Homo sapiens: one gene and its partner. The protein of the gene in region 1 interacts with the protein of each later gene in a biochemical or structural test. Each region holds a gene or a part of one and is shown on either strand. Other genes may lie near its edges. The genes, in order: F5 and SRPK2.

Region 1 (3,821 bases):
CTTGAGTATGACCGAAGTCACAAGTCCTTCCCCACAGATATAAGTCAAATGTCCCCTTCCTCAGAACATGAAGTCTGGCAGACAGTCATCTCTCCAGACCTCAGCCAGGTGACCCTCTCTCCAGAACTCAGCCAGACAAACCTCTCTCCAGACCTCAGCCACACGACTCTCTCTCCAGAACTCATTCAGAGAAACCTTTCCCCAGCCCTCGGTCAGATGCCCATTTCTCCAGACCTCAGCCATACAACCCTTTCTCCAGACCTCAGCCATACAACCCTTTCTTTAGACCTCAGCCAGACAAACCTCTCTCCAGAACTCAGTCAGACAAACCTTTCTCCAGCCCTCGGTCAGATGCCCCTTTCTCCAGACCTCAGCCATACAACCCTTTCTCTAGACTTCAGCCAGACAAACCTCTCTCCAGAACTCAGCCATATGACTCTCTCTCCAGAACTCAGTCAGACAAACCTTTCCCCAGCCCTCGGTCAGATGCCCATTTCTCCAGACCTCAGCCATACAACCCTTTCTCTAGACTTCAGCCAGACAAACCTCTCTCCAGAACTCAGTCAAACAAACCTTTCCCCAGCCCTCGGTCAGATGCCCCTTTCTCCAGACCCCAGCCATACAACCCTTTCTCTAGACCTCAGCCAGACAAACCTCTCTCCAGAACTCAGTCAGACAAACCTTTCCCCAGACCTCAGTGAGATGCCCCTCTTTGCAGATCTCAGTCAAATTCCCCTTACCCCAGACCTCGACCAGATGACACTTTCTCCAGACCTTGGTGAGACAGATCTTTCCCCAAACTTTGGTCAGATGTCCCTTTCCCCAGACCTCAGCCAGGTGACTCTCTCTCCAGACATCAGTGACACCACCCTTCTCCCGGATCTCAGCCAGATATCACCTCCTCCAGACCTTGATCAGATATTCTACCCTTCTGAATCTAGTCAGTCATTGCTTCTTCAAGAATTTAATGAGTCTTTTCCTTATCCAGACCTTGGTCAGATGCCATCTCCTTCATCTCCTACTCTCAATGATACTTTTCTATCAAAGGAATTTAATCCACTGGTTATAGTGGGCCTCAGTAAAGATGGTACAGATTACATTGAGATCATTCCAAAGGAAGAGGTCCAGAGCAGTGAAGATGACTATGCTGAAATTGATTATGTGCCCTATGATGACCCCTACAAAACTGATGTTAGGACAAACATCAACTCCTCCAGAGATCCTGACAACATTGCAGCATGGTACCTCCGCAGCAACAATGGAAACAGAAGAAATTATTACATTGCTGCTGAAGAAATATCCTGGGATTATTCAGAATTTGTACAAAGGTTTGGCCAGTTTTCTCCTTTTTTATTCTCATTTTTCCATTACTGCTGAAAAAAGTAGCTACTACAATTCAGGGGGATAATTGTGGGCAAATTATACTAAGAACAGTGTGGTTCCCCTATTGCAAGTTGGCCTGTTCTTTTTCCTTTGTCAATTCCAAGATTGCTTCTTTACCTTAGATGACCCCTGGACAATATAAGAACAATCACTGTGAGAACTCTATAATATTCTGTAATTAAGCATTTTTCTGTGTCCTCTCCTCTTACTACCCATGTTTCTACTGACTCTTATTGCTCCAGGCAGAGCCCAACCTATCCATAGCTATATGCTAATCAATATGATTTAATTGAAGTTAGCCTCAAATCCAAACTCAAATATGATGTAGAAATCTCCTTTTTGCATTTACTTGTTTAGATCAGAATTTCTAAGAGATCCAAATCCCTTTTTTAAAAGAATATTTACAATTCAGTTTTGCTTAGGGGTAGAAAGCCATGTTGAACTGGGCTCTTTGTTCTGGGATGAAGATACAGAAAGAGAAGAGAGAGGAGGAAAGGAGCAAGGCTTAGTCAACTACAAATTCTCAGGGATATAGCATGATGACTGTGCATCAGCTGTCTAGATATGCCCACAGCTTTTACTAAAGCTGTTACACTAATCACTTAAAAAACCAAAGTGTAATTACAGTAGGCAAACACAATGTATGGTGTGACTTATGCATATGAGTTCATTAATCTGATGCCTGACATCTCCACATTAGAACTCTGTTTAAAACACCTTTTCCTATGACTTCCTATTTAAATGTTGCACTCAATACCACATGAGAACAACTAGCTACCTGAGTATTTCTAAGCAAGGCCCCGAGGGAGTGAGATGCAGGGCCTGTCCAGAGTGAATAGGGATGGAACCACCTTCAAAATCTTGTATTCCATTCAAGGCTCACAACCCACTTTTATGGCATTCGGAGTTGCTTTACCCACTCCCTTGTGTTCTGTGAGTTTGCATGTTATGCTCAGAGTCTGGAAAGATGGGATTAGTAGGGGAGGTAGACCAGAAGAAAGGCAGAAGGAGATTCTCTGTTGATGACTCACAGTATATAGCAAATATTATGGGTTTGATGGGTGAGTGTTTGGCTTGTTTCCACAGGCTTGGGAAATGTGAGAGTCAGTGGGAGAATTCGACATGCTTCAGTCCTAGACTGAGCCAATGAACTAGATGGAAATAATGTGCTTTATTTATTTATTTATAATTTGTAATTAAACTTTTTATTTTGGAACAAAAATAAAATAGATTCACATACAGTCAAGAGAAATAATACGGAGAGATCCTTTGGGTATCCTGAGTATTCTTTACCCAGTTTCTCCCAGGGGTAACATTTTGCAAATCTATAATACTATATCACAACCAGCACACTGATGTTGATACTGTCAAGACACAGAATGTTCACCATCACCATAAAAATCCCTCTCATTACCCCTTTATAGTCACATCTGCCTTCCTCCCACCATAGCCCTTCCTTATTCCCTGGCAACCAGTAGTCTGATCTCCATTTCTATAATTTTGTCATTTCAAGAATATTACATAAATGGAATCAGGCAACATGTAACCTTTGGGGACTGGTATTTTTTCACTCAGTATAATTCTCTGGAGATTCATCTGGTTATTGCATGTATTCCATTATATGGGTGTACCCCAGTTTTTTTGTTGTTGTTGTTTTATACACATTTATGGTGTAAACATGATGTTTTAATATATTTATAAATTGTGAATTGGCTAAATCAAGCTAATTAACCTATGCATTACCTCACATACTTTTTTGTGGTTAGAACACTTAAAATGTACTCAGCAATGTTAAAAATTCAGTGTGTTGTTATTAACTACAGTCACCATCTTATACAACAGATCTTCTAAATTTATTTCTTCTAACTGAATTTTATCTTTTGACCATTTTCTCAATGCTCCACCTCTGTATCCCTTTGTTAACCACTGTTCTACCTTCTGCTTCTATGAGCTCAATGTTTTTAGTTTCCACATTATAAGTGAGATCCTGCAGTACTTGTCTTTCTGTGCCTGGCTTATTTTATGTAACATAACGACCTCCTGGTTCAGTCATGTTGTCACAAATGGCATTTCTTCGTTTTCTTTTTTTTAAATGCTAAATAGTATTTCATTGTTTATGTAGATCACATTTAAGAAATCCATTCATTTGTTTATAGACATTTGGGTTGCTTCCCTATCTTGGCTAATGTGGCTAATGCTGCAGTGAACGTGGGACAGCAGATATCTCTTCAACATACTGATTTCATTTTCTTTGGGTATATACCCAAAAGTGGGATTGATGGATCATGTGGTAATTCTATTTTTAATTTTTAAAGGAACCTCCCATACTGTTTTCCATAATGGCTGTACTAATTTACACTCTCACCAAGAGTATACAAGAGTTCCCTTTTCTTCACATCCATGCCAACATTTATCTCTTGTCATTTTTATAATAGCCA
Region 2 (3,821 bases), on another chromosome or scaffold:
TTCACTGCAGACTCCACTTCCCAAGCTCAAGTGATCCTCCCACCTCAGCCTCTGGTGTAGCTGGGACTACAGGCACATGCCACCACGCCTGGCTAATTTTTGTATTTTTTGTAGAGATGGAGTTTGTCACGTTGTCTAGGCTGGTCTTGATCTCCTGAGCTCAAGTGATCCACCCGCCCTGGTCTCCCATAGTGCTGGGATTACAGGGATGTGACACTGTGCCCGGCTGTCTTTGAGATTTATAAATAGCATCAAATCTCACAGAGACTCTGTTGGGAATGAGAGCTGACGGGTGGTAGCCATTGGCTATTGTCAGGGAGGACAGCTTTAGGCTCTGCAGCTGGAGAAGCACAACAGAATGAGGGACCACAGCAAGGGTATGTTGGGTTTGGATCTGTTTTACTTTTCTTGAGTTTTACTTTTTTTTTGAGCTTTACACCTTCCAGTGTAAGTACATATAATCTGAAACTTCTTTGTGGCTGAAGCATTGGTTTCTCTGCATTTATGTATTAGAGTCTCTGATAGGACTTTTTATGAACTCCATGGTGAGTCCTGGTCAGTGCCATAGAAACAAGAAAAGCCATTCCAACAAACTTCACCAGACTTCTTCGGCACTGGTCACATTACAGAACAAATACGTGATCTTATTTGTTCAGAATCGGGATACTTCAGCATAGGAGAATGTTTTAGGAGAGAGGTAGTTGGTCTCCCAAGAATCTGGAAACAAGTAGGTCCAGGGAAGAGCCCTTTGAGGGGATTGAGCCAAGTAGAGAAGAATCCGGAGTTCCCAGGTATTAAAAATAATAATAAAGATTATACTTAGGCCCAGCGAGGTGATGCACACCTGTAATCCCAGCACTTTGGGAGGCCAAGGCAGGCAGATCACTTGAGGCCAGGAGTTTGAGACCAGCCTGGCCAACATGGCAAAACCCCATCTCTACTGAAAATACAAAAATTAGCTGGGCATGGTGGCACGTGCCTATAGTCCTAGCTACTCAGGTGGCTGAGGCAGGAGAATCGCTTGAACCCAGGAGGCAGAGGTTGTAGTGAGCCAAAATTGTGCCGCTGCACTCAGCCTGGGCAATAGAAGGTTATACTGGGAGTAACTGAGTTGAAGGCAGAGTTTTTTTCATTGTAATGTGCATTTGCCCTGTTGTACATGTTGTATTGTTAAGAGAATCTTGCCACTCTCCAAAGAATCAAAAATGGGTAGCATTACAGCCTTCATCTTCCTTGTTCCTTTAAAAAAAAAGAAAATTATTTGGCCGGGCTTGGTGGCTCACGCCTGTAATCCCAGCACTTTGGGAGGCCGAGGCAGGCGGGTCACGAGGTCAGGCTAACATGGTGAAATCCCGTCTCTACAAAAAATTAGCCGGGCGTGGTGGCGGGCGCCTGTAGTCCCAGCTACTCAGGAGGCTGAGGCAAGGAGAATGGTGTGAGCTTGCAGTGAGCTGAGATTGATTGTGCCACTGCACTCCAGCCTGGGTGACAGAGCGAGACTCCGTCTCAAAAAAAAATTATTTCATTGATTGGCTTCTATACATGTTTTCTTGGGAATATGTGGGTGCTAATCAAAATGATGATTTTTTTCAAAGAATACATACCTGACATATTTTGGCAGTAAGAAATATGTACAAAGCTGGGTGCAGTGTAGTGCGCCTGTAGTCCCAGCTTCTCTGGAGGCTGAGAGAGGATCACTGGAGCCCAAGAGGTTGAGTCCAGCCTGGACAACATAGCGAGGTCCCTTCTCTAAAAAATATGAAAGAAAAAGAAATATATGCAACCAGATTGAAGTCATTTTGAAAATTAATTAAAAGAGTTAGTTAGCATAGGGCTCAAGGCAGGGGTTGAAAAGCAGCTTGGAACTTGATCCAGGCTTTTCAAGTCCTCGTTGTCCCATTAGAGTTTTCAGATTTTTCTCTTAGCTTGTAAGATACTGAATTGATTGTTTCCCAGGCTAGAAGGACTCTCCTGGCCATTGAGTGTGTAATCTAGTTGTTCCACTTGGATTTGGGGCCAGTTATGAGGTTTTCCTGCCCTCATCTGGGATTGGCCCAACTGTCTTCTTTGTTTATTGGGTGGAAAGGAGAGGCCCTACATAAGGGCTTTCCTGGGTTTTCTGCTGGTGCCTTCGTGCATCCACAGTGCTGGGACCACCAGCTCACCATGCTGAGATGTGACATGTCCGTGTCTTGCTCAGACCTATGCCAGGTTCAGGGCAGGGATCCTGAGTTCATAAATTAATGCTTATCGCTCGGTCAGCTGGAAGCCATCTTGTCACCATCCTTCCTTCCTTCAAGTGATTGACAGGCAGTCTTTTTTTTTAAAAAAGGTGAAAAGATGTGGTCCTGGGCTGACTGCACTCACTCTTGGTTTGTTAAAGACAGTGCCAGGAGAGGTGGCCCCTCACCCAGGCAGGTGAGCCTTCCCTTAAAGGTGCCTTTCCAGCACTGTGTGGTCATTGAAAGAAAAAGAAGGTAGGTTGATGCAGTGAAGTTTCCCCAGTATTGGCTCCTTGGGGCGGGAATGGGGAGGGCAGTCACAGATCCACAGGCATCAGTGATTGGGCCTCTGAGCACCTTTTGGGACAGCAAGATCCGTTCAGAATAGAAGCAGCTATGAGAAAAACCAGAAATGGGATTTAGCTTATTCTTTTTTTCTCTTTTAAAACATTCTCTTTGATCAGCAGAGCAGTAGCAGTTGCCATTTTTGTATATTGTTACTAGCTTAAACTCATGTTTTTGAGGGTTTTTTTGTGAGCAAGGGAAATGTGTTCCCTACATGCTGGCATGCTGAGGGACAGCCAGTGGCCACCCAGGAAGCCAGTGCTCCGTGACATCCACAAAAGGGTCTGCAAGACCATCTGCTTCCTCTGGCCCTGGGGACAAAGAGGGTCTTTTTTGTTTCCAGGTTTTCCTTTGGTTGAATCAGAAATGAATGAAATGATGATGAAAATGGTTGATGAGATACTGAAAATAGTCCTTGGTTACTAAAACATGAAGGTCTTCGCCTAAAAGACGCAGCAGTGTCTGCTATACAGAGGCCAAGGCTATTATAGTGGTTGAGGCAGGTGCTGGAGTCAGACGGGCCTTGTTGAGTCCTGGGTTGAACTCTCGTTCTACCATTTATAGAGTGCATACCGCGCTCTGGCCAGGCCTGCATGCAGGTGCGGCTGACTCACTGACGTTTTGGTTTTGCTTCCTGCAAAATGAAGAGAATACATAGCTCTTATATCTTTCCTTAGAAATGTAAAAATACTTCTGAAACTTCTTTGAATGTGGAAGAAAGAAAAAAATTAGTATTGAGCACTTTCAGGAGGCTATTTTGTTTGATTCAGATCTTCATAAAGTGGCGGTCTCTTCTATAAGGAGAAAAAGCTGTTGACTTGGGGGCCAGTCTCTGAAGTGCTTAGCATGTCGTCTGTTGTATCCTAGGCATTTGAGCTGGCAACGGGAGATTATTTGTTTGAACCACATTCTGGGGAAGACTATTCCAGAGACGAAGGTGAGTATTGGTGCCTGCTGAATACCTCGGTCTAGGTCTTCTGCCAGCCCTGAACTTCTGTAGAGTACTGTATTTTTGTACTGAAATAGAGCCATGTGTTTGGTTTTCAAACACCAAATTCAGATGCTTTTCCTTTGAGTTTGATGCCCCCTCAGTCTCAGTGAATGGGCAGAGCCTGCCTAGCACAGGCAGCACTCCAGCGAGCCCTCAGGGGCCCTACACCAGCGGCTCTTCCTGGCCTTGCACAGGGCAGGAACCCAGCTGGCTGAGAGAAGACAGATGATACAGACCTGAAGCCTCTATGTGGTCCTTTTGAC

Evidence for each region.
Region 2: of the proteins of F5 (region 1) and SRPK2, one has a biochemical effect on the other in vitro, tested with the Homo sapiens proteins (one large-scale study listed by BioGRID).

What each region holds. Positions count from the first base shown.
Region 1 is NC_000001.11:169,537,801-169,541,621, reverse strand, and holds part of F5 (coagulation factor V preproprotein), read left to right. Parts: coding exon 1-1,328; intron 1,329-3,821. UniProt on the Homo sapiens protein: Central regulator of hemostasis. It serves as a critical cofactor for the prothrombinase activity of factor Xa that results in the activation of prothrombin to thrombin.
Region 2 is NC_000007.14:105,126,676-105,130,496, reverse strand, and holds part of SRPK2 (SRSF protein kinase 2), read left to right. Parts: intron 1-1,604; exon of another isoform or gene 1,605-1,711; intron 1,712-3,434; coding exon 3,435-3,504; intron 3,505-3,821. UniProt on the Homo sapiens protein: Serine/arginine-rich protein-specific kinase which specifically phosphorylates its substrates at serine residues located in regions rich in arginine/serine dipeptides, known as RS domains and is involved in the phosphorylation of SR splicing factors and the regulation of splicing.